Linked DNA regions of Homo sapiens. The protein of the gene in region 2 interacts with the protein of the main gene of each other region in a pairwise test. Each region holds a gene or a part of one and is shown on either strand. Other genes may lie near its edges.

Region 1 (7,039 bases), on a different chromosome or scaffold from region 2:
GATGGGTGGACATCAAGAGACCTTTTTTCCCATTGAAATAAGGTCCATTCTCTTGAAATAGCCATGTGATGGTTTTAAACTATGTTCACAAATTCTTTGGGTGTACAAATAGTTCTAAGAATATTACAGAAAGGTCCCATATACCCCACACCCACATTTTCCTGAATGTGTCTCAATCTGGGTTTGTCCTGTGTTTTCTTCATTATTATTAGACTGAAGGGATGGGTTTTGGGGAGGAAGACCACAGGGGTGAAGTGCCCTTCTCCTCACATCATATCAAGGGTACACACCATCAGCATGACAGCACTGCTGCTGTTAATCTTGATTACCTGGCTGAGGTAGTGTTTGTCAAGTTTCTCTACTGTAAAGGTCCTCCCCTTCCATCCATAATATAGTCTTTGGAAAGGAGTTATTATGTACAGCCCACATTTAAAGGGTAGAGAGTTATTCTCCATCTCCTTAAGAGTGGAGAGTATCTACATAAATTATTTGGAATTCTACATGGGAGATTTGTCTATTTGCCTCCCTTTATTTATTCATTCAGTCGTTTTTTAAATTTTTTAAATTGATAATAATTGTACATATTTACGGGGTACATAGTGATGGGATGATACATATATCATGATCAGAGTAATTAGCATATTCATCTCAAACATTTATCATTTCTTTGTGCTGGGAACATTCGATATGCTGCGTCTAGCTATTTGAAACCATATATTGTAATTAACTATAGACAACCTACAGTGCCACAGAACAGTACTAGAACTCACTCCTCCCATCTAGCTATAATTTTTGTATCCTTAACAAATCTCTCCCTGTTCCCTCAACCTCTGAGACCTTTACTTTCTACATTACATTTTTTATTCTGTTCAGATTCTAAGCCAATAATATATTGCTTTAAAATTAAAAATAAAATGCATCAAAAATTTTTAAAGTGCTTTCATAGTTACTACCTAAGTTTATTCATGCCAAAAAAAACTATGCAGAAAGCTTTAAATAATGGCCTACTCAAAGCTTCCCTATGATGAGATACCATTATCTCTTTTTTATAGACGAGAAAGCTGGGTCATTGAGACATTCACAAATTTGTCCAATTTCTCCCAGCTCATGAATGGTAAAGCTAGAATTCAGAGCCAGAGCTGCTTTTATCCTCTTTACTGATTCCACTTATTTAGCTAATCTTTCTAAAAATTTATGAAGCAAAGAGGGAAGGTTTTAATGTAAAGTTGTCAGTGACAGAGATTTGAGTTAACTGGGTCAGGATTACTGATTTTAAGTCCATGATTGTTCCTACTTTGGCCAGTGTGCACACAAGGAGAGATCAATCTGCTCCACTTAAAGTTCACATTAACGAAAGTGTTTTTCCACGTTTCCTATACCTGTTTCATATTAACTTGCAAGTATTTTTTTAACTTCTTAAGAAAGCAAATATCTCTGAACATTAAGAAAATTCTGAAAATGCTCCATCTTTCTGCAAGATATAAACTACTCTTTAACTGGGCTGAAAGTTAATAGTTAAAAGATTGTATCAGCCCAAAACCATAAAAAAGGCAAATGTTTTTCCAGTTTGTCTGCTTGCAAATCTTGGTGCCCTTTACAGAAATTCGATAAGACTGGCATTCTAAATTAGAAATGCATGTGAATAGAACATTTAATTTGATACTGCAGTAATTTGATTAAATGCACAAAGGGAGTTGTGTGGATTAATTGAAGAAGCACTGGAATATCAGCTTTGGGAATGAACTTCAATCTCATCATGGGTCCTAGATGAAATGATATTGCTAGTATTGACTATGCTTCCTGTGATTAAATATTTATGAGGCAGCTTAGTTTACTAAATATAACATTTAATACAGCTTCAACTTATTGCTACCTTTTCTTTCAATCCCTAGAGTGAAATTTTTCTTAGCCTGGCTTCTTAAAACTAAAAAAATATTTAAAAACTAAAACTTTAGCTAGTTTCTTATCTTTATATTCATCACCCCTTGTTCCACTGAAAAAAAACAAACAGGGAATCACACTATTTTAAACGACTACTGCATTTTGTCATTTCTTTACTTTCCTTTAGCTGACACCTTGTGTGGAATTAAAGAATGCAGAGAATCAGTATTAACTCTCGGGATCCTGGACCTAGTGTAAATGGAGCTCTCTACGAACTCTTCAGGAGTCCCTCAACTTACCCATCAAAATGTTTTACAGATTGCATCATGTAAGTTACTAAAATTACAGTAAATGGCATTTAATGTTTACAGTGCTTGCTCCACTCCCAGCAAGTTGGAAGCAAATGAAAAATGGAGCATCAGAACTACACCCCATCAGTATGATTGCTATTTAGAGCACAAAATTATGAACAAAATTTGAGAGTTGGGTGTTTTTAAGCAGACTCATGATAATTAATCAAAGAAGGACAGATTCTGGGTTCCATAATACCTATCTGGTGGTAATGCACATTTATTCATTCAACAAATACTTATAAACTCCATTCTGTGACAGGCAGTATTGTAGGTATTAGAGAAATAGATGTAAATAAGCCAAACAAAATCACTGCCTTCATGGAATTTACCGTGGAATGTGCTTAAACTTACTATTAGGAGAGACTGGTATGATGTTTAGGACTTGTAATATGTTCAAATCTCTTATATATACCTTTTATTTAATCTGTGCCATATATGCCATCCATAAATTTTTTTGTTGTTAATCCATAAGTTCTGTTTCTTAATCTGATGGAAGTATTTAAGCATGGAATATATTAGAAGGCAGTCCAGTTATCGCTAATAATTCCAATGATTAAATTAACTTCCCAAATAAAATTCAACTTTCTTACCTCTTCAATACTTGTTAGCTTGAGATGAGCAGCTGCTTCATCTTTGGTAAGAAGAATGCAGTTCCAGGGGGACCACTCCAGGGATTTATTCCATCTGACCATGACCAGATCACTGAGATTGTCGCAAGCACTGAGGACTGACTGGGACGCCCAGATGTTCTCTGTCAGGTACTGAATGTCTTGTAGCTGCATGTCAAAGCAAGTTTTAAAAACAATGTAGTTTAAATTTGTTTAAGATTATTATATTACTTGAGCAAATAATTAAATTATAGAGTATTTTTAAGTGAATTATTATTCACTAGGTTTCAATGACACATAGCCCCTTATTTTTCACTAAACTTCTGTTCATTTTGCCTAAACTACATTATCAGTCTCACAGTTGCGTCCCCATCTCTAAACCAGAGTAAGCAGTATAAATTCATTTCAGTATGCTAATTTTACCTGAATATAATCTTAATAATACTATAATGTTACCATAATAAACATATGGTATTGAATGATCTTTAAAATTCATTAGTAAGTACCATCTTAATTTCAGGGCCATTGTAGGGACCTTTTAAAACCTTTTACTGCCATTTTACAAATGAGGAAGCTGAGATTTTTTTTTTTTAATATGGAACACTTCACAAGTTTGCATGTCATCCTTGTCCAAGGGCCATGCTAATCTTCTCTATATGGTTCCAATTTCAGTATATGGGCTGCTGAAGCAAACACAGGAAGTTGAGATTTAATAAAGATAAGTAATTCACTTAGTGTTAATTAAAAGACTTGGTTGTTTTAATCAAAAAGAGGGGTAATGAAATAGCTGTTTAAAACTTTTTAAAAAACGTAAATCTTATCAGCTAAAACTCTTGGAATGACTTTTTATCATGGGGTCTGCATTATAAATTTAGAATTGCCAGAGACGGACAAACTCAACAAAGTATAAGCATGTAAAAAGAATATTTTTTAAAAAAGCTTCTGTGAAAAAGTGTGAGAGCAGAAATATTTTCTGTAAAATGAGTACACAAAACCTAAACAATCTGCCAAAGTAAAAAACAAAAAGAACCTGTCATCATCAGCTACAACAGTATTTCATAAATTGGTAATTCAATATATTAAGCTCAACTAATGCATTCTAGCTTTTACTTAATGCTAAAAAAGACAATACTCTGTACACAGCTGCTATGAAAAATAAATTTATAGACCTTTAAAATTCAATGTTTTATATATTTTACTTACATTCAAAATGCATCTTGTTTACATTTTTGTTTTTAATTTAGTTGCTCAACTGTACTAATAATTTTGAAATTGTATCATACAGAATAACGTGTTTATTTGCATGTAAATGTCAAATGTGCACATAAGTGTGGTTGACAGTCTCTAAGAGCTTTCTACCTTTCAAGTAGTCATTGTACTTGAAATTTTTGCAGTAACAGAGCAATACTATTGCCTATTATATTAGGCAGTATTTGTATGCATTACAGATAAACGAGGTGACTAGTACAACACTCAAATCTCTTGTCTAAGCAGAATGTTTACTTTTTATATATATTAACTTTCACCTTTTCATTTTACATGGCATCATGTTCACATTTAACATATGCTAATCTTTGCTGTTGTCCACAAGATTTACTATTTATGAGAATGTTCAAACATTCAAATTATGCCTCAAATACTATTACTGAAATAAATATTAATCAAAACTACACCAATTACAAGGGGGGGGAAGCTACTGGACACTCATATTTGTCTGCTAATCCTAGACATTGGAAAAGTAATAGACCAAAACCCTACATAGATACGGTACTGAAATTAAATCACATCTAATGGAGATTATCCTTATCTGAAAGGTTACAATGCTCCCCTAGAATTTTTTCATTCAATATGTGTAATGGTTGATTTTACATCAACTTGATGATGCCACCGGATACCCAGATATTTGGTCAAACGGTATTCTGGTGTTTATGTGAGGGTAGTTTTGGATGAGATTAACATTTAAGTAAGTCAGTAGACTGAGTAAAGCAGAGTGTCTTCCATAATGTGAGTGGGCTTTATCCAATCAGTTGAAGGCCTGAATAGAACAAAAAGTTCACCCTGTCCCCAAGTAAGGAAGACTGTTTCTGCCTAATGGCCATTGAATTGAGACACTGGCTCCTCCTGGCTCTATAGCAGCCTGCTGGTCATCAGACTTGAACTGGGCCATCAGCTGTTTAGGTTTTAGACTTACCAGCCTCCACAATTATGTGAGCAAATTCCTTGTAACAAATCTCCTTATATGTATATATATATAACATATATGTATAACATTTTCTATTGGTTCTGTTTCTCAGGAGAAATCTGACTAATACAACATGGAATATTGAGCCAGCACTTCTTGGTGACTTACATTAAAGCCCTAGTACATCTAAGATTCTCTACAAGGAAATATACATCTGTCATGTCAATAATTCCTGAATAAAAGTAGCAAATAAGAATTTAAGCTGAAATAAACATCAAATTTATTAACAAAATATTCATTCTATTGGACAAAATATGTAATCATTTTAATTTGTGCTTTTCAAACTGTGGGTTGCTACCTCTTGGGTGATACCAAAGTTTTCCAAATGGAAATCAGAATAAGTAGACTGAGATTGAATAGAAAATATCAGAGTACATCCATAGGGGTAAAGATAAACACTATTTTGGAAACTTTTATTTCTGAGGCAGAACAGCATGTGTTTACATGTACGGATGCTGGGAATCAGACTGCCTAGTTTTCAATCCTGGTGCTGGTACTTAGTAGCGTAAACTTGGACAAGTTAGTTAACCACTCAGTGCTTCCCTTTCCTCACCTGCAGAATGGAAATAATGCCTATTTTGATAGGATTTTTGTGCTGATTAACTCAATAAAGTGTGTAAAGCCATATAGGTACTGAGTATTGAGAATTATCATGCATGCCTATATCAGGTTGTCATAAAAATACATTTTTACTATAGATTGAGATTTAAAAGTTTGAAAGCTATGGATTTAGAAGAATTTTTTAACAAAGCACATCACATTTGGTATCTTTTTTTTAATCTCTATAAAGTTTTCTATTCATAGTAGTGCCTACTTTCCTATTTGGTATTAAATACAATTTAGTTCATTTTAATTAGTAACTAATTTACAGAAAATTTGCCCTTATTTGACAGTCTGTGAACACAAATATCATTAATGAGGTCAATTGTGCTCTATAATATACTTTTATTAATAAGTGGCTAATGTTGGGTAGCCATATCAACAACAAGTAAGTCCTTCTGTTTTCTCACTTGCTTACCTAAGTCCAAACAGTGTCAGGAATTTGTTTTTATTTTGTAGAGACACAGACTATCCTCTGGCCTAAACCCAATAGAAGACATGGAATAACCAAAGAGACCGAAGTAGTGGTTAAGTTAGGAATTCAGGTCAGAATTCCTGATCTCACAGGCTCCACCCTCTCACAGAGCTAGAAGTTCTTACGAGAAGCAGATTACGTAGGGTCAATGATCCAATGCAATGATTCATCCAAAAGAACTCTGGCCAGAAACTTTCCAGTTGTGTGGTATCATATCAACACTTTACATAGACAAGTATCAAAGCCTTTCCCTAAGGTTTTTTTTTTTTTTTACTTTCTATAAGCCTTAGCTTTCACTTTTGGTGTTATTTACCATTATGGTCACATTTGGTTTACACTAATTATTACTGTTATTCGTAAACACTAGTATGTGTATATGTAACATCAGTTTCTGTAAAAGTCATTCATTCATTCAACAAATATTGAGGGCCTTAAATAAAAACTTGGTACTGTATTAGGTTATAGAGGTATAATGGTGAGCAGGAGGGAAAAAAAGCATACTCCTGCCCTCACAGAGCTTACAGTCTAGTGGAATAGAGAGTCATTAAACAATCACACACACACACACAAACATACATAAGATTGCAAGATAGCCTCCTTGACAAGCTTCAGCTATAATTGGCACCCCTTATTGACCATACCTGCATCAAGAAAGCAATTTTAGAATCATCTTCATAATCAGCTTCTGTATAGTAGAGCTGTTGAAGTAAACATTTGTACTTCAAAAATGATTCTCGTTTTTGAGCCTCATTCTGAAGGTTAATGCAGTTACGACACCGGTATATGCGGCGTGAGGTGGATGATACAGAAAATTCTGTAGAAGGCAAATAAAGCTGGCAACTGTGGCAAAAGTAAATCTTCTTATAAAATTTCAATGGGT
Region 2 (3,649 bases):
TTTTCAGCATACAAGTCCTTGCATATTTTGTTAGATTTAAACCGAAGTATTTCCCTTTTTCAGCAATTGTAAACAGTACATATTTTTAACTTTTGTGTCTACATGTTCATTTCTAGGAGGTAGAAACAGGTTTTTGTGTGTTTATCTTGCACCCGAGATTTTGCTGGACTCCCTAGTTGTCTGCTTTCTGTAGATTCCTAGGATTTCCCACATAGACAAGCATGGCCTCTGCATGAGAATACCTGGATCCTCCCCTCAGGGCTTCTGACTTAGGGTCTGGACATCAGGACTTTTTAAACCTTCCTGGTGATTCTGATAAGCAGCTGAGGTGGAGAACCACTGCTCTTTGACCTTGTCGTCAGTGAGCAGAGGTGCCTTAAGCACAAAAGCCTAGTGCCAGGACCCCGCATCCCGCCCACTCTGCACTCGGCCTATCTTGCTGTCGGCCGGCATGGCTAACAGGCGTGGGCCCTATCAGACAGTCCCTGGTGACTGAAGCATGGGCTCCTCTCGGCCCAGGAAAGACGGCTAGGCTGTAATGGATAGCCAGTTTTAATGAACAGAGGATACTGATTGGTATAAAAAGGTGTGTTTGTCACTGAGGTGTCCTCATTTTCTAGATGAGGAGTTGTCTTCTCCATGGTCTTGAACGCCTGCTTCGCCATGGCACCAGCGTCTGGGTGCACGCTGGCTGTCGCCACAGGGCAGGAGCTGCTCATGGAAAGGTGTGTGCCCCTAGTGTGCAGCACTGGTCAGCTTTTCCACATAGTAACAACAGCCTTGTTCTGGGCCTGAGAAGGCCCCCAAAGGTAGACGAAAAGGAACCATGGCCAAATGCCTATCAATCAGCCCGGTACCTAATGTAACCCAGGACCCATGTGAGGGAGGCTGAGCCTTCACCTTTCAGCCCTTCCCTCAGCATGTGGTTCTCAGTTTAGGGCAGAGCTTCTTAAGATTCACTTTCTGGCGTTTAGGGGCCCAGCCCCACCAGCAGTACAGGCCTACACCAGTGTAATTTGAAACGTACAGACGGTGGAAGAGGAAGTCTAGGGAGCTTGGGTCCTTAGACCACCAGGGAGCAGGGAAGGGATGGGAAGGGCTGGGGGGCGGCGGGGGCTCACCTTCCTCTGCTTCCCTGTGGGCTGGGTTCAGAGCTCCTCAGTGTCCTGGCCTCCCAGGTGGGATCAAGCAGGGTGGGTGCAGCTGCAGCGTTCCAGGCAAGAGCTCAAGCTCCAGTACCAGGAACATAAGGGGACATAAGGGCCTCAGGCAAACTAGGGTTACGGGCCACTGCCCCAAGAGTTGAGTGGGCCACAAGCAATCCCCAGTGCCCAGGCGCTTCCCCATGAGAGCCGCCAGCAGGCAACGGTGTGCCAGGCCGGCCTGAGCGGGGCCAGTACACAGTGGGTGCGAGGCTTCTCTCAAATGCGCGCTCCAGCTCATCAGTCTTAGGGCTTCTGAGGCAACCTAGTGGGTCCTGGACTTCTGTTGCTGTGGGGCCTCAAACCTGTTGAGTAGCCACCTCAGATGACCAGAACCCACCTCCAGAGTTCCTATGACCAAAGTTGTCTAGAGCCGCTCCGGACACTGCCAGGGTTGCTACTGACAGGAATGGGGTCCCCAGAGAAAGCCATGCCCACAGGCATCCACCAGCTGCAGACAGGCCCGGCCCCTGCATGGCCTGCCTTGGCTGCACCTTGTACATCCTGGATGGCATCTGCCGGCCACGGGCTGAGTCCCCACACACACAGACTGGCCCTGGAGAGAGCAAGGCAAGCCCCCTAACCTGGGACAAGTGGACACTGAGGACTCCCAGACCCAGCCCTGGGTGGCTCCAGCTTGGGACTGCTCCCTTAAGGCTCGTTCTTGGCCCTCACTCTCCTCCCCTTCCTGGCCCTCATCTGGACCCGCGCTTTCTGCTGCCTTGTGGTCCTCTGCTCCAGCCCTGGGAGGGAACGCGGCTCCCCTGACACTCGAAGCCAGGGAGGCCTCTCTCTTTGCCTGCTGGGCCCGGTGCCGCTCTTCAGTTCTGCCAGGGCTGCTGAGGCGGCACAGGCCAGAGAGGGAGGAACCAGGGCTGAGGGCAGGAACCACAGAGGTGCAGACGCGGGGGCGGGGCACAGGATGGAATGGTGGCAGTGCGAAAGGCGCGGCGGGGGGCGGTGCTGCGGTCAGCACCGGGTGCGGGGATGCGCCACGTGGGCCTGCAGGGCCTCCCGGATGCCGCGCTGCCAGTCTCGAGCCAGCTGCACCGGGGTCACGGAGGCCTGGGAGCAACGGTGTGGGTCAGTCCCTTGCAGGCGCTCCACCCGCCCTCGGGTCAGGAGCCAGGGCTGCGCCCACACTCACCGCGTTCCGCACCCCCAGCTCGGCCCCATAGAGCAGCAGTAGCTTCATGGCTTTGTAGCTGCCGTGCCGCACGGCCTCGTGCAGAGCCGTGTCCCCTTCCTGCTGAGAACGCAGGCAGTCAAGCTTCTGCCTCCGCGTGCTGCCCTCCTCATGCAGGAAGGTCAGGGCTGCTGTCACCGAGCAGACAGCACCTCTGGTCCTGGCTGGGGCTCCTCAGTCCCTGCTCCTCTGGAGCTGTCCGAGCCGGAAAAGACCAAGCGCCTGCCTTACCTTATCCTGTGCGTTCAGGTGGGCGCCACACTCGATGAGGTGCTCCAGGCAGTCGGGGTGCCGGGTGCGCACTGCCACGTGCAGGGGGGTGCTCCCGATCTGAGAGCAAGTGGGGGTCAGTGCTGGGTCTGGATTGGTGAGGCCTCCCTAACCCATGGGACTACGTGCTCTCTTCTCCAGGAACAGCGTCTGCTCCCGTGTTCCCGACAGGCCCCCAAAGCACCGTGCCCCTCACCTTGTCCCGGGCATTGACCCGGGCTCCCTGGTTAAGCAGCTGTTTGAGGATGACCAGATGTCCTCCGCGGCAGGCCCAGAACACAGGTGTCCTGTCCAGCTGCAAAACAAAAGCACCCAAGCACTCAGCTGCTGGGATGTGAAGCTGGGCGTCGACCAGAGGCTGGGCCTTTCCCCATCCTCACCAAGTCTCGCGCGTCCACTGTGGCACCTGCCACCAGCAGCTTGTTCACCAGCTGGCTGTGACCCTTCAGACAGGCCCAGTGCAAGGCGGTGCGGTGGAGCTGAGGGCAGAGATGGAAGATTAGGCAGAGGGAGTGCAGCCACCCCTAGAGACCCCACGCGGTCCCCTTCCCAGGGCCAGGTCCCTGAATGGAATTGCCACTTCCCCCACCACGCGATGGGCCGCTCCCTCTCCTCCGTCTGCAGGTGCCACTGGATTCATGCCCATAAGAGTGAAAATCCCTGCAGCCTCCTAGGCCAGGACTTGAACACACTGAAGGCAGCGCTCCTGCAGCTGCAGCTGCTGCCAGCCGACTCACCCAACCTGTGCTACCTTGTCATGGGCATTGGGGTCCCCTCCGTCTGTCAAGTACTTGTCAATCAGGTACTCCTGGTTCTCAGCAGCTGCCTTCAGGAACATCTCCAGGCCCACAGGCTCCACCTGGGCCTGGGACTGCGGCTGGTTCAGTTGAAGACAAGACCAAATCACTCCCGAAGGCCGCAGGTGCCCAAGATGTCACAGCTTCACCAGTCTGGCCCACGGGTCCCATGCAGCCCACCAAGGAACACTGCT
Region 3 (7,039 bases), on a different chromosome or scaffold from region 2:
ATATTTGCAGGAGCAAAATAGAGCAAAGGTTATTTTGGATCCTTTACCAATACAGCTTCCTGTAAATAATGAAAAGTGCAACCATTTAATTTACCAAATCATTAAAAAAGGTTAAATGCTCAATAAATTCTGCTTTATCTAGTTCAGTCAGCCACAGCAGCTATTTGTAACTTGGATATAAAAAATATAGAAAACTTAGGCATTTTTTACTAGTTTGTGCATCTGTACCTTTGACTAGAACTAAATTTCAAAGGTTGTTCAGACAGTTTAGAATCCTCATTAGGATCTCAGAGAAATATCTTTTGGACCCCTTCCCGCCTCATGAAGAACAACTGAGTCTGCCTTTCTTAAGAGAACACTGTTGCCCTGCCTATGCCCACTCCCACTGAAGTTACACACATAACACGCACACTTTCTCCTCCTCTCCAACCACTGCCATTTTGTGCCTGTGGCAGTCACTTTCAACTAAAAAGAGAAAAGAGAAGAGGTCTCAGAAGGAGGAACAATTTGGAAATGTCTTCTTCTTTAATCCTAAAATACAGAATGCATTGTCTGAGATAAACTGGAGCTCTTATGGGAGCATTCTCTGACACAATTGTGTTTTAGTACTGTGAAAAATGTGCTATACAGGTTGAGCGTTGCTAATCTAAAAATCTGAAATCCAAAATGCTCCAAAATCTAAAACTTTCTGAATGCCAATGTGATGGCACTAGGGAAAAATTCAGCATCTAACTTCATGTGACAGGTCGCAGTTAAAATGCAGTCAAAACATCATTTCATGCACAAAATTTTTAAAATGTTGTATAAAATTACCTTCAGGCTATGTGTATAGGGTATATATGAAATATAAATGAATTTCATGTTTACACATCAATCCCATTCCCAAGATAATTCATTAGGTATATGCAAATATTCCAAAATCCAAAAAATTCCAAAATCCAAACCACTTCTGGTCCCAAGCATTTCAGATAAGGGATGCTCAACCCGTATGATCCTATCTATCTACTCTAACAAATTTCAATGTATCACACTCGGCACTCCCCAGATACAGACTACAGATGGTCCCTGACTTGATTTAACAATGGTTCAACTTATAATTTTTTCCAGCTTTATCATGGTGCAAAAGTAATACATATTCAGTGTGTATATAGAGTGTTTCAGGCCCCTAAAGGTCATACCCTTCCCAGGGTAGAGTAACCTGCATCCAGTGACTGAAAGAGACATACAGGCCTGGCCATTTCTGCCTGACAAGGTACACTCTGGAGGGCAATGCTCTCACCAGAGCTCCCTGCTGATTGGCCTAGGCTTTGCGGGTCTAGCTGTCAGGTAGACTTCTTCCTCTATCCAGTCCCGCTCCTTCCCTCTTTCCTTCCCAAATGTAACACCTTGTTTTCCAAACTCCATTCTGTGTGTGATTCTGGAGGACCCAGCCTACAACACTAGCCATGACTCCTTCCTTTCATTCATGTCCCACATCCATTCTATCAAAATTCAGTTGACTCTATTTACAAAATTTAGCACTGATGTCCACCAACACCACTCTAGTCTAAACTAAAACATGAGGTGGTTCATGTAAAGTGTATAAATGGAACCTGGGTTACTACAATAGCCTCCAGCCTGGTTTTTCAGTTCCTCTCATTGTTCTCCTTCAGTCTATGTTCCTTATGCAACTATCATAGTCCTTTTAAGACACGAGTCGCAGCATGTCACACCTTTGCTTAAAACCTTTCAGTGTATTCCCATTTAACTTGGAGTAAAAGCCAAAGTCCTTAAAGGCATACACACTCCTAAATGGTTGGTTCTCCAACCTTAGCTCCTGCTACTCATCACTTTGCTGTCTTCACCTAGACACCCTGGTTTTTATGTTGTCACTTAAACACAGGGCACATACCTTCAAGCCTTTGCTCTAGATCTTCATCTGCCCGATTCCTGAACTCTTTCAAGGCTTTGGCATTATCTCACCTTCTCAGTGTAACATCTATACAATTTTGTTCTCTACAGTGTTTATTGGTTTTATTTTTTGCCTATAATCACCTGCTAAAATGTAAAAATTTGTCAAGGGAAGTGATCAGATATGTCCCAAGCACATAGAACAGTAATGCCAATAAGTATTTGTGGAGTGAATAAATCTTATGCTTCATAAGTAGATCTACATAAAACAAAGTCATCATTTCGATCTAATTAACAATCCCACTTCAAATTCATTGGATTCCTTGGCAGAGATGTACAGGAGTCAGAAGTTTACTAACAGAGTACTTTCCTGTTAATCAATTCTTTGGAAGACTCAAGAAGGTGATAGAGACTAATCTGGATTTTTTATTTTCTCATGCTCTAAACGCCAACATGTGGATCTTCTTCTGTTTTATTATTATTATTACTGTATTAGGACATCAGATCACACTTTATCTTTCTCCCGACTTACCTCCAGCTCATCAAGGGCACTTCCCAGGGTTGCTGCCTGAGGTTCTGGTGGGGTTGTCATATTCTGGATCCCTTGTGAAGCATTTGAAATTACATTGAGAGCATTCTGAATTTCTTCACAAACTGTGTCCTTGCTTGCTTTGAGGGAAGCAACATCAGAATGCTCCAAACAAGCTGAACAAATTGAATGCAAGAGGGGAGAGTTCTCCTTCAGTGAAGCTCGGGCTCCTGCAATTTCATCTCTCTGATTTGGAGATTTTAAGTCCTGAGAAGGTAAATAAAAAGAGTGGTATCTTACAATGGGTTATGGGAGAAAGACTTAAATTAAAAAGCTTCTTTTTTTGTAAGTATAAATGAAAAGATAATAGACATGAAGAAGTCAGCTATAAGTTATAATCAAGGGCATCTATTATTTCTACATTCTTTCAGTTTCTGTTAAAAATTCTGCAGTATAAACAATGACACAGTTAATAAGTAAAGGTCCCCGTAGAGCAGATGTGTAAAGATCCATTACTATTCAGTCAAGTCCTTGTCAGTCAAATCCTTATAAGTAGCTAAAATACTCTGGCATTCACATTATTAAGTGCATTACATGGGAGCTTGAATTACAAGGATGCTGATTACCTCATTCCATAGATGTTGATAATTGCATTTAACCTCTCCGTTAAAATTAGACCAATTGAGTTAAGAACACTAATGAAACCTCCCACCATTCAGCTATTTTTCTTTTTCAGAAATACTAATAAATTAATCCTATATCATTCTTTCTTTGATATTTATTCAACAATTAGTTACTGAGCACTTAGCATATTCTAGCCCTTGTGCTGGACTCCAGTGTACAGATATGAAAAAATCCTACAAGGACCTTGTTCTTCTTTCTTTTGGGGGGAAAGGGCCTACAGACAAACAATGAACTAGATGAACAAATATACGAGATGATTTCAGGTGACAATAAATGCTATGAAGAAAACACAAAAGTGAAGTGTCATAGAGATTGACTTGAAAGGAAAAGCTGCTTTAGGCTGAATGGTCCGAGAAGGTATTTCTTCAGAGATGACAATTTGCAGTAAATGTAAATGAATAGCATTACATCAGAGAGAAGAGAGGAAAGAGAATGCCCTGTCTAAGTGATAGGCGATCAGAACTAGCTCAATATACAAGAAAAAAATCTGGCAAGCCCTACCTTAACCAAGTGATGAAATTTAACATAATCAGTGATATCACATGGATATCATGTACCCCTTGATATACTGTGACAGGAAAAGTATGCCATTTCTGTGGTATTCCCTCCAGGAACCCATAATTCCAGTCTAATCATGAGAAAAGCAACAAACAAAATGAGATTGGTGAACATCCTAAATGACACCTGGGCAGTATTCCTCAAGACCATTAACATCATGGAAAACAGGAGATGGACTGACAAGCTGTCACAGAACAGAGAAGATTGGGGAGACATAACTAAATGCAGTGTGGTACTGAGGATTAGATCCTGGAACAGAAAAAACATTCATGAAAAACTGCTGAAATCCAAATAACCATTATTAATAGTTAATAGCAATGCATCAGTATCCATTTCTTTGTAGTGGCAAATGTAAGATACAGCATTAACAATGGAGAAAACTGGAAAAAAGGTAAATGGGAACTCTCTGTACCACCTTTGCAACTTTTCTGTAAATCTAAAATTACTCCCAAATAAAAGCTTAAGTTAAAAAAAACTAATTCAAGGGACATTTACAATAGTTCATTCACTTCATATACAACATTTCATATAATCTTTATAAAAACTCATGAGAGATGTGATTATTCCCATTTTAAAACTCAAAACACTAAGGTTTCAAGAGACTAAGTTTCTTAGCCAAGTGGCAGAGCTAGATGGTGGTATTTCTTGTATTGTAACCCACGTCAGTATAACTTCCAAGCCCTTATCCTAAAAACTATGTGACATTATTTCCTACATAGGAAAAATTTTTTTCTTTTTTCTTTTTTTATGACAGAGTCGCGCTCTGTCGCCGAGGCTGGAGTACAGTGGCGCGATCTAGGCTCACTGCAAGCTCCGCCTCCTGGGTTTATGCAGTTCTCCTGCCTCGGCCTCCTGAGTAGCTGAGACTACAGGCACCCACCACCACACCCAGCTAATTTTTTGTATTTTTAATAGGGACGGGGTTTCATCATGCTAGCCAGGATGGTCTCGATCTTCTGACCTTGTGATCCGCCCGCCTCGGCCTCCCAAAGTGGAAAAATTTCTTATTTGCTACACAGAATGAGGACTTGTATTTGTATAATATCATGTAGCTTATAAAGTGCTTCTATACAGTATCTTACTGATCATGACAATAGTCTTTGAGGGAATGAGGCTGCTATTATTAGTCCTATTTTAACTAAACAGGTGTTTGGTGCAAGGAGATAGAAACTAGTAAAGGAACAGAGATCTAAACCTAAGTCTACTGATTGCTAACCTTATGCCTTTTCACAAGACTCTGCTACTCTGGGAATAATGTTGCATGAGGTTAATAAATGGCTTGTGCTACTATATTTTTAGTTCCTTCCCTTCTGAAAATAAACACTGTCTGCTACTTCACTCAGGCTTTGGAGAGATTAACTTCGTTACAAAATGTAGGGAGGACAGTTAGAAGTAGCTATCAACCCACTGTTCATAGTCACTAATCACCCAAGAAAAGACACTATGGTTTTCTTGGCTTGCTACGATTTCCCCCTTGTATATGTGGTCTGGGTTTTAGTTTTAGTTCTGTCATTAGCACTGTGAGCTAGGTAACTCATCTCTTTCGGTGTCTGTCTTTCTATCTGTAAAAATGGGATAATGATACTTCTGCCGACCCTCTCACAAGATTGAGTACATAGCACATCAGAAATGGAATATAAGTGGAAAATAGAGAAAAGGTGTAGAAAGAATACGGAATTGTTTTATTCCTTACATCTGTCAAACTTGGTGTACTGTTTCTGTACTGATAATCTTAGTGATTTTTGTATTTCCCACAACGTTGTACAAGCTCTACCTACAGTCATCAGTGTAACTTAGAGGATAAATAGTTTAATGTTTAGAAAGGATGCACAGCTCCTCAGATGAGTAATAATTAAAAGTATAAATATTTAGAAAAAGGTAAGGCAAATTCTCTGATATTACTGTACAATCACAACTTAATACATAATTCTCTCTGAAGTGACCTATACATTATGCTTCTTTATTTAGAAGGACAGTGTCAAGGTTTAGTTTGTTTCTGAAAGGTGAAAAACTTGAACATAGATTATAATCAAGAAGCTAAAGTTAAAATTATTTCTTTTGCTCTAATGGTAGCAATGTGTAATCTGATGGTAAATTGTAGTAACTTTAATGCCATGGGGACTTTGAAATGTTAAAAATACAAATGTATTTTGAATTTGGAGCCTATGCTTTGTCATCTCTGCCCAAGGCAATTACAGAATCCATGAGCCCAAATAGCAAGTCCTTGACGCCTGCGAAAAAGGACTAGATCAGTGAACATAACAAATATAACGTTACAGCAGTGGACAGGGGCAAAGGGGCAGGTGGCAGAGTTTATGTAAGGAAAACTGACAAGGCATGACCATTTCTCCCAAAGGACATCAAGCATGATAAACTTAATGTAGTAAATAGGCACACAGATAAAAGAGAAATTAATGACTGTCACCTCCTAAATGTATGTTGTGGTAGTGGTGTTTGTAGTTGTTTTATTTTAACTGATGATACCATAGGTTCAAAGGTTCTTGTTTGTCCATTTACCCTAAAATTTTACATAAAGTCAAAATAGGCATTAAACAGTAAAGTTAATCAGGGATTTCTTTGGATGGAGAAGTATAAAGAATTCAGCTCCTCAAGGATTGATACTTATTTATAATCTTTTTTTAAATGCTCCAGAAGAAAGCTCACAGGAGATTTCCAAGTTAAGAAGACATTAAATGTTTCCAGCTGACGAAGAAACACACAGATGGGATTTAAAAAGACCTTAAAGTCTGTGCAAGTGGGTAGAGAAGTAACATATGAGTTTTAACCCTGGCAAGAGAACAAAATATATTTAGGAATATTATTTTAAAAAATACAAGTGGAGGGCTTTAAGCTATCAGTTAATTAATTCAACCATTCCTTCAACCTGTACTATGTTGAGCCTCTCCTATGCTGAGCCTCGACTTTGCATCAAGGCAGTGTGCTAAATGTTGGAAATGCAAAGATAAAGATCAGGAGGGGAGACAAATAAACACATTTACATGGGAACTAAAATAGAGTTACCCACAGCATAGAGGACAGTCTCTCAGTTTGAAGGGATTAAATAAAATTTCTCAGAGAATGTGAATCTTTTTTCCAGCTTTATTGAGGTACAATTAACAAATAAAAATTGTGTAGATTCAAGGTGTACTATATGATGCTTTCATATACATATACATTGTGTAATGATTACTACAATCATATTAATCAATATATCCATCACCACACAGTTACCCTTTGCGTTTGTGTGTATGTGCTGTGAGAACATGTAAGATCTATTCTCTTAGCAAATTTCAAGTAAGCAATACATTATTATTAACTGTCTTCACCATGCTGTGAGTTAGGTCCCTAGAACTTACTCATCTTATAATTGAAAGTGTA
Region 4 (7,039 bases), on a different chromosome or scaffold from region 2:
AGCTACTTGGGAGGCTGAAACAGAGAACTGCTTGAACCCAGGAGGCGGAGGTTGCAGTGAGCCGCTACTGTGCCACTACACTCCAGCCTGGGCGACAGAGCAAGACTCCGTCTCAAAATGAATAAATAAATAAATAAATAGGATTTTAAGAGTACTATAAACAACCGTATGCCAACAAATTGGATTATCTAGATATAATGGATAAATCCCGAGAAACAAACAACCTAGCTAGATTAAATTATGAAGAAACAGAAGATCTGAATATATTTGAAATAAGGATTTTAAGTAGTAATCAAAACCCTCCCAACAAAGTAAACCCCAGGACAAGATGGCTTCATGGGTAATTCTACCAAACATTTAAAGAAGAACAAACACCAGTCTTTCTCAAAGTCTTCCAAAAACTTGAAGAAGGAGGAACACTTGAAACTCATTCTATGTGACCAGCATTATCCTGATACCAAAGCCAGAGAAAGATACTAGAAAACTATACAGCCATATCTCTTACGAATACTGATACAAGAATACTCAACAAAATGCAGGTAAAACAAATTCGGCAGTGTAGCAAAAGGATTATACAAGATCACCAAGTGGCATTTATTCTAGGAATGCAAAATGGTTCAAACACATAAAAATCAATTAATGTAGTACACCCTATGAACAGAATAAAGGGGAAAAACAAAGATCATCTCAACTGATGCAGAAAAACATCTGACAAAATTCAACACCCTTCCCTCATCAGAAAAAAAAAAAATAGAAGGAAACTTAAACTCACCAACATAAGGCTATATACGAAAAACCCGCAACTAACAAGATACTCAATGATGAATGGAAGATTGAAAGCTTTTCCCCTAAGATCAGGAGCTAGACAAATATGCCTGCTTTTACCACTTCTATTCAACGCAGTATTGGGAGGTCTAGCCAGACCAATCAGGCAAGAAAAATAAATAACGCATCCAAATTGGAAAGGAAGAAGCAAAATTTATCTCTGCTATAAGAGACGTGATTATATATGTAGAGAACACTAGAGATTACACAAAAAGTAGTTAGAGCTAACAATTAGACATTGCAGGACACAAAATCAACACAAAAATCAACTATGCTTCTACACACTAACAATGAACAATTATGAAAATTAAGAAAACGATTCCATTTACAATGGCATCAGAATAATAAAGTACTTAGAAATAAGTTTAACCAAAAAGGCGAAAAAAGCCTTGTACACTGAAAACTACATCCCCGAAAAAATCAAGGAAGACAAGGAAATGGAGAACCATCCCATGTTCATGGATTGGAAGGCTTAATATAAGGTGACAATACTAACTGAAGCTATGTACAGACTCAATGTATTCCTTCTCAAACTCTCAGTGACTTCTTTCGTAAAAACAAAAGTCCATCCTAAAATTAATGTGGAATCTCAAAGGACCCTAAATAGCCAAAACAATCTTAAAAAAGAAGAACAGACCAGGCGCAGTGGCTCACACCTGAAATCCTAGCACTTTGGGAGGCTGAGGTGGGCAGACTGCCTGAACTCAGGAGTTTCAGACCACCCTGGGCAACATGGTGAAACCCCATCTCTACTAAAATACAAAAAAAAATTAGCCAGGCATGGCAGCATGTGCCTGTAGTCCCGGCTACTCGGGAGGCTGAGGCAGGAGAATTGCTTGAACCCAGGAGGCAGAGGTTACAGTGAGCCGAGATTGCACCACTGCACCCTAGCCTAGGTGACAGAACAAGACTCCATCCCTTAAAAAAGAAAAAAAAAAAAAAGAACAGTGTTAGAGGACTCACATTTCCTGACTTCAATACTTACTACAAAGCTATAGTAATCAAAACAGTGTGGTCTTGGCATAAAGGCAGACATATATATCAATGGAAATGAATAAAGAGCCCAGATACAAACCCTTGCATATACAGTTAACTAATTTTCAACAAGGATGCCAAGAATAATGGCAAAGAACAGTATTTTCAACAAACAGTGCTGGGAAAATTGGATTAGGTTGGACCCTTACCTTAAGCCATCTATAAAAACTAACTCAAGATGGATCAAAGATCTAAATATAAGAGCTAAAACTATAAAACTCATGGAAGAAAATACAGGGGAAAAGTTTCATGACACTGAATTTGGCAATAATTTCTTGGATATGGCAACAAAAGAAAAATAAATAAACTAGACCTCAAAATTAAAAACTTTTGTGCAAAGGGCGCTATCAAGACAGTGAAAAGGCAACCTATATAGAATGAGAGAAAATATTTGCAAATAATATCTAATAAGGGATTAATATCCAAGATATATAAATAACTCACTTAACAACTACAAAAACCCAGTTAAGAAATGGGCAAAGGACTTGAATTAACATTTCTTCAAAGAAGAGGTACAGGTGACCAACGGGCACAAGAAAAAAATTCTTAACATCACTAATCATTGGGGAAATGCAAAACAAAACCACGATGAGATACCACTTTATGCACATTAGAATGGCCATTAAAAAAAAATCCAGGAAAGAACTAGGGCTGGCAAAGACGTGAAGAAATTGGAACACTCGTGCACTGCTTATGATGATATAAAATGACACAGCCACTGTGCCAAACAGTATAGTGGTTTCTGAAAAAATTGAATTTAGTATTATCATATAACCCAGCAATTCTACTTTTAGGAACACACACCCAGAACAACTGAAAGCAGGGACTGAAGCAGATATTTGTATGCCAATGTTTATTCATTGGTATTTACAATAGCCAAAAGGTGGAAACAACCGACAACATAAATAGATGAGTAAATAAAGATGGTATGTACACATAAGAGTATTATTCAGACTTTAAAAGAAATGACGTCAGGCACAGTGTCTTATGCCTCTAATCCCAGCACTTTGGGAGGCCAAGACAGGAGGATTGCTTGAGCCCAGGAGTTCAAGACCAACCTGGGCAACACAGAGACTCCATCTCTACCAGAAATTTTAAAAAGAAAAATTAGCCAAGCAGGGTAGTACATACCTATAGTCCCAGCTACTCAAGAGGTTGCAGTGGGAGGATCACTTGAGCCCAGGAGGTCAAGGCGCAGTGAGCCACGATAGCACCACTGCACTCCAGCCTGGGCAACAGAGTGAGACCCTGTCTCAAAAGAGAAATAATTGAAAAAAAATTCTGATACATACTATAACATGGATAAACTTTAATAACAATGTTAAGTGAAATGAGCCAGTGACAAAAGGACAAATACCATATGATTCCACTCATATGAGATACCTAGGATAGTCATATCCTCAGAGACAGAAACTAAAACAGAAGTAACCAGGGGCTGGAGGAAGAGGTCATAGGGGTAATTGTTTAGTAGGTAGAGAGTTTCAGTTTAAAATGATGAAAAAGCTCATGAGAGATCAGTGATGGCGGCACAACATTGTGACTATACTTAGTAACACTGAAAGGTTAAAAATAGTACCTTTTATTATGTATATCTTACCACAATAAAAAGCCCCACAGGGTAGTCAATGTTATGTTTAAAAGAGAAGAAATAAATGGGAAGTCATTTTAGATATGTATTTACACAGGTCTTAGAAGAGCTATTCAGCAGATGAGTACCTAATGAACTGGAATTTTGGCAGAGATCCTGGGAGTGAAGTGAACCAAATCACTTGGGAAGTGTGAAGTAATTTCCTCCTCCAGGGAGGTCAGCAGATAGAACATGTGAAGCCAATGTTAAGATTTCTCTGGAGTCTAAAAGATTATCAAATTGGACAAGTCTGTTCTCAGTGTTTTCCAACAAGGTGCAACTGACGTTTTGGACAGAACAACTGCTTCATCCTGTAGGACTCTCCTGCCTGCCACATGGTACTTAATACCCCTGAACTCCAAACCACTTACCAGGGGCATTCCCCTCACCCTCATCACTCTAACAATCAAAAAGAAACCCACCCACGTTTGTTACCACGACTACCATGACCCCAGATCACTCAGATGACAACCACAGAGTGATTGAATCCAAAACTGAAATAGGAGCACCCTGGTCTGTTAGGATATGACAAGCTATAAAGCAGTAGCAAACAACCCTAAATCTCAATCAATAGCTTCAAACCAAAAAAAAAAAAAAAAAAAAAGGCTTCCGTCTTGTTCACATTACATGTCCATCACAGGCCAGCCCAAGGCTCTATTCCACACTGTCCTCACACCAGAACCTGGGCTGATAGAGCTACCACTCTGCAGAATGCTGACAGATGCAGTGGCAGAGGGAATGAGATACAGTAAGTGGTATGCTGGCATTTAAATAATTCACTTAGAAGTGACATATAGTACTTCTCATATTCCACTGGCCAAAGCAAGTCAAATAGCCTTGACTGTTTCAGGGCCAGGAAAGTGCAACCCTACACCACTTACCTGGAAGGAAAAGAACCAGCCCTGATGACTTCCAAACTATGCCTGCGAAGTGCTCTGAAAAGTAGAAAACGCTATATAAATGTTAATTAAAAGAGTATATTACTAACAATACTACTTTGCCCTTCCATCCATTCAATGGATATTTATTAGGCATCTAATACATGCTGGACATCGTCTCCTAAGCATCAAATATATGCCAGACACCATGCTAAGAGAGCTGATGAAAACTGAGTCGTAAGTGGTAGGGTAAGAGAAACAATCTTTAAACAATTCCAGTGTGGTATGATAAATGTGATCAGGGAAGTCAGCCCAGGTACTCCAGAAGTTCCCAGGGCGAGCACCTGAGCCAGCGGTGGGGGCAATGGATGGGAAGACTTCCAGGAGCAGTAACCTACATAGCTGCAGGATGCAGTCACCCTGGAGAACCTGCTGTAGATGCACAGGTGGAAGCATGAATGTGGGCGCTGTGGATGGGGTGTCCCTGCCTTCCGCCAAGTCAATGAGACCAACTTGCCACAAATTCCCCATAGCCCTAATCTGCAGTCACTTCCACTAAATGTCCACTGACACATTTATAGGTTTTCTTGGTTTTCTAGGCAGACCGGATGTAAAGAACAGATTTCTGGGACTACTCTCCACTTTCCCCCCAACTAGAACATTCTATGAGATGCTCTAAGTTCAAGGAGACAACATTCTTTCAGTCCAGTTATCATAAGCTTGGTTCTAACCTCAGCAAAAACTGCTTTCTTTCAGCTAATATAGCGCAACAAAAGGGGAAATGCCCTAGGAAAACAATGTGTCAGAGGCTCCTAACCATTGAAAATCAGGCACATTCCCTTTATGAGATATTAAATACATTATAAAGAGTTATTAAAAATAGTGCAGACTCCAACACAAGCCGTAAGATATACAGTATACCACCCTGAGATATTTATTTCCTCTAATAAAGAAAAAAATATTTTTTCAACAGAAAATACATAAAATACACATCTAGAAACACTAGACAGTCACTAAAAATGAAAACTGTAAAGATCTCTACGCTACTAGGAAAAGTAATGCTGATAGTGCTAAGGAAAGCAGATTCCAACAGCAATCATACTGTAAAGGTTAGACAAAGATGACGACTGTGCTACAGGCAAACACTTCATGGAAACTGCAGAAAATGGGGCACGGAGAGTAGGGGAAGCAGAGAAGTGGTTCAGTGCAGCTTACGGTAACATGTTATTGTTTGTACAATGCAAATTTCACATAAAAGTCATTCCTATGTAAAAGCTTGGTGGATCTTATTCACATTCCCAAACTGACTTTTACAGGCAGTATAAAGCATAATCTGGTGAGTTCCTAAAAAAGAACCAGACTAGCTGCTGTTAACACTCCAGCCCTTCTAGTTAAAGGGAGGAGGGAACAGGGCAAGTTTCCTGACTCACCAAGGCCCGGTGATTCCAGCAGCAAGGGCCAATTCCTTACAAATTGCCCTGAGCAAATTAGTCAATTTAGCCTTATCTTTAAAAGGCAGATAACACAACCTACTTCACAGAACTACAGTGGGGATTAAATCTGATAACTTTTAAGTACTTAGCACAGCATGACTTTTAAAAGGAAGTGATAGTTTCCATTCCTTGGGGGCAAAAAAGGATGGCTCTTAAGGTCTCCCTCTACTCTCCAAACCCAAGGTCCCCCAGGTCCCCATAGCACAGAGCAGGAGCCAGCTGAGCTCTGGCAAAAGCAGAAGAGGAAGGGAGTTCAAGCATGGCCTTCTGGTAGAGAGTGTGGGGAAAGAGGCGTGTTTTCTGTGTCTTTGTTCTTCCACCCTACCAATGCCTAGCACATAACCGGTGCTCAACTGACTATCTGATCAGTGTACTAACCCAGTCAGCAAGCCCTCTATCCTCAGCTGATGATCATGAAGGAAAACAGGCAGGAAACATCAACGATTTATTTGAACTAAAGCTCAGGCCCCTTGCACTGTGAGACTCCACACTTTATTTCTGTGCTGCATGCAGGGTGCTAGCATTTACTACTATGGAAGATACATTTTTCTGAGTGTTAACTTCAGTGGTATTTACCAAATATGCCTCTGAATGGTCCTATTTCAAAAAAACTACAGAAAGCACTGCTTTTCATAAACAAAAAGAACAAAATGGCCCCAGTAGTATTTTCTTATCTCTATCCCTACCTACTTTAAGTAGCCTGTAATCTATTCCATTTTGGTGAATAAAGCCGAGTCTTTTCTAAAACAAAACTGTATACTGGAGGTAAATATTCTAAAACATAACTTTGAGTAAAGGAAAACTCTCAAGAGCAGTTTAAATGTAATGCCTGGCTTATTCTATTCCAATGATGTTCTAATCTTTTTCATTAATTTACTCTAATGTTTGTAATTGTTTTAGGCCACAATTATCTCATTGTTTCCTGGCCTGTGTACCTGATCAGAATCATTATGATCTCTGAGGTTTTCGCCTGATTTTTGAGAATCCTGCTCTGCTATGGATGGGGTAGCCAGCAGAACACAGAACAACCAAGGAGCGTTTTAAATACAAGACTATTAGAGTGGCAAATCATTGTCCTTTCTGTGACCAGCTTCTGGGGCTCTGGAATTACATGTTAAACAACAGGATCAGATGGGAGCACTTTGCAGCTAAGAGACCAATACCAGAAAAATACCCCTTTA

The links.
Region 1: the proteins of ANKRD23 (region 2) and IQUB interact in binary tests that used the Homo sapiens proteins (3 or more experiments, as listed by UniProt).
Region 3: the proteins of ANKRD23 (region 2) and CTNNA3 interact in binary tests that used the Homo sapiens proteins (3 or more experiments, as listed by UniProt).
Region 4: the proteins of ANKRD23 (region 2) and CDCA7L interact in binary tests that used the Homo sapiens proteins (3 or more experiments, as listed by UniProt).

What each region holds. Positions count from the first base shown.
Region 1 is NC_000007.14:123,454,557-123,461,595, forward strand, and holds part of IQUB (IQ motif and ubiquitin-like domain-containing protein), read right to left. Parts: coding exon 6,801-7,039; intron 3,011-6,800; coding exon 2,825-3,010; intron 2,721-2,824; coding exon of another isoform or gene 2,637-2,720; exon of another isoform or gene 1-2,636. UniProt on the Homo sapiens protein: Adapter protein that anchors the radial spoke 1 (RS1) complex to the A microtubule of outer doublet microtubules in axonemes. The triple radial spokes (RS1, RS2 and RS3) are required to modulate beating of the sperm flagellum.
Region 2 is NC_000002.12:96,837,378-96,841,026, forward strand, and holds the end of ANKRD23 (ankyrin repeat domain-containing protein 23), read right to left. Parts: intron 3,536-3,649; coding exon 3,410-3,535; intron 3,138-3,409; coding exon 3,039-3,137; intron 2,954-3,038; coding exon 2,855-2,953; intron 2,719-2,854; coding exon 2,620-2,718; intron 2,449-2,619; coding exon 2,350-2,448; intron 2,268-2,349; coding exon 2,172-2,267; 3' UTR 535-2,171; downstream 1-534. UniProt on the Homo sapiens protein: May be involved in the energy metabolism. Could be a molecular link between myofibrillar stretch-induced signaling pathways and muscle gene expression.
Region 3 is NC_000010.11:67,217,185-67,224,223, forward strand, and holds part of CTNNA3 (catenin alpha-3), read right to left. Parts: intron 2,687-7,039; coding exon 2,423-2,686; intron 1-2,422. UniProt on the Homo sapiens protein: May be involved in formation of stretch-resistant cell-cell adhesion complexes.
Region 4 is NC_000007.14:21,935,894-21,942,932, forward strand, and holds part of CDCA7L (cell division cycle-associated 7-like protein), read right to left. Parts: intron 4,423-7,039; exon of another isoform or gene 4,369-4,422; intron 1-4,368. UniProt on the Homo sapiens protein: Plays a role in transcriptional regulation as a repressor that inhibits monoamine oxidase A (MAOA) activity and gene expression by binding to the promoter.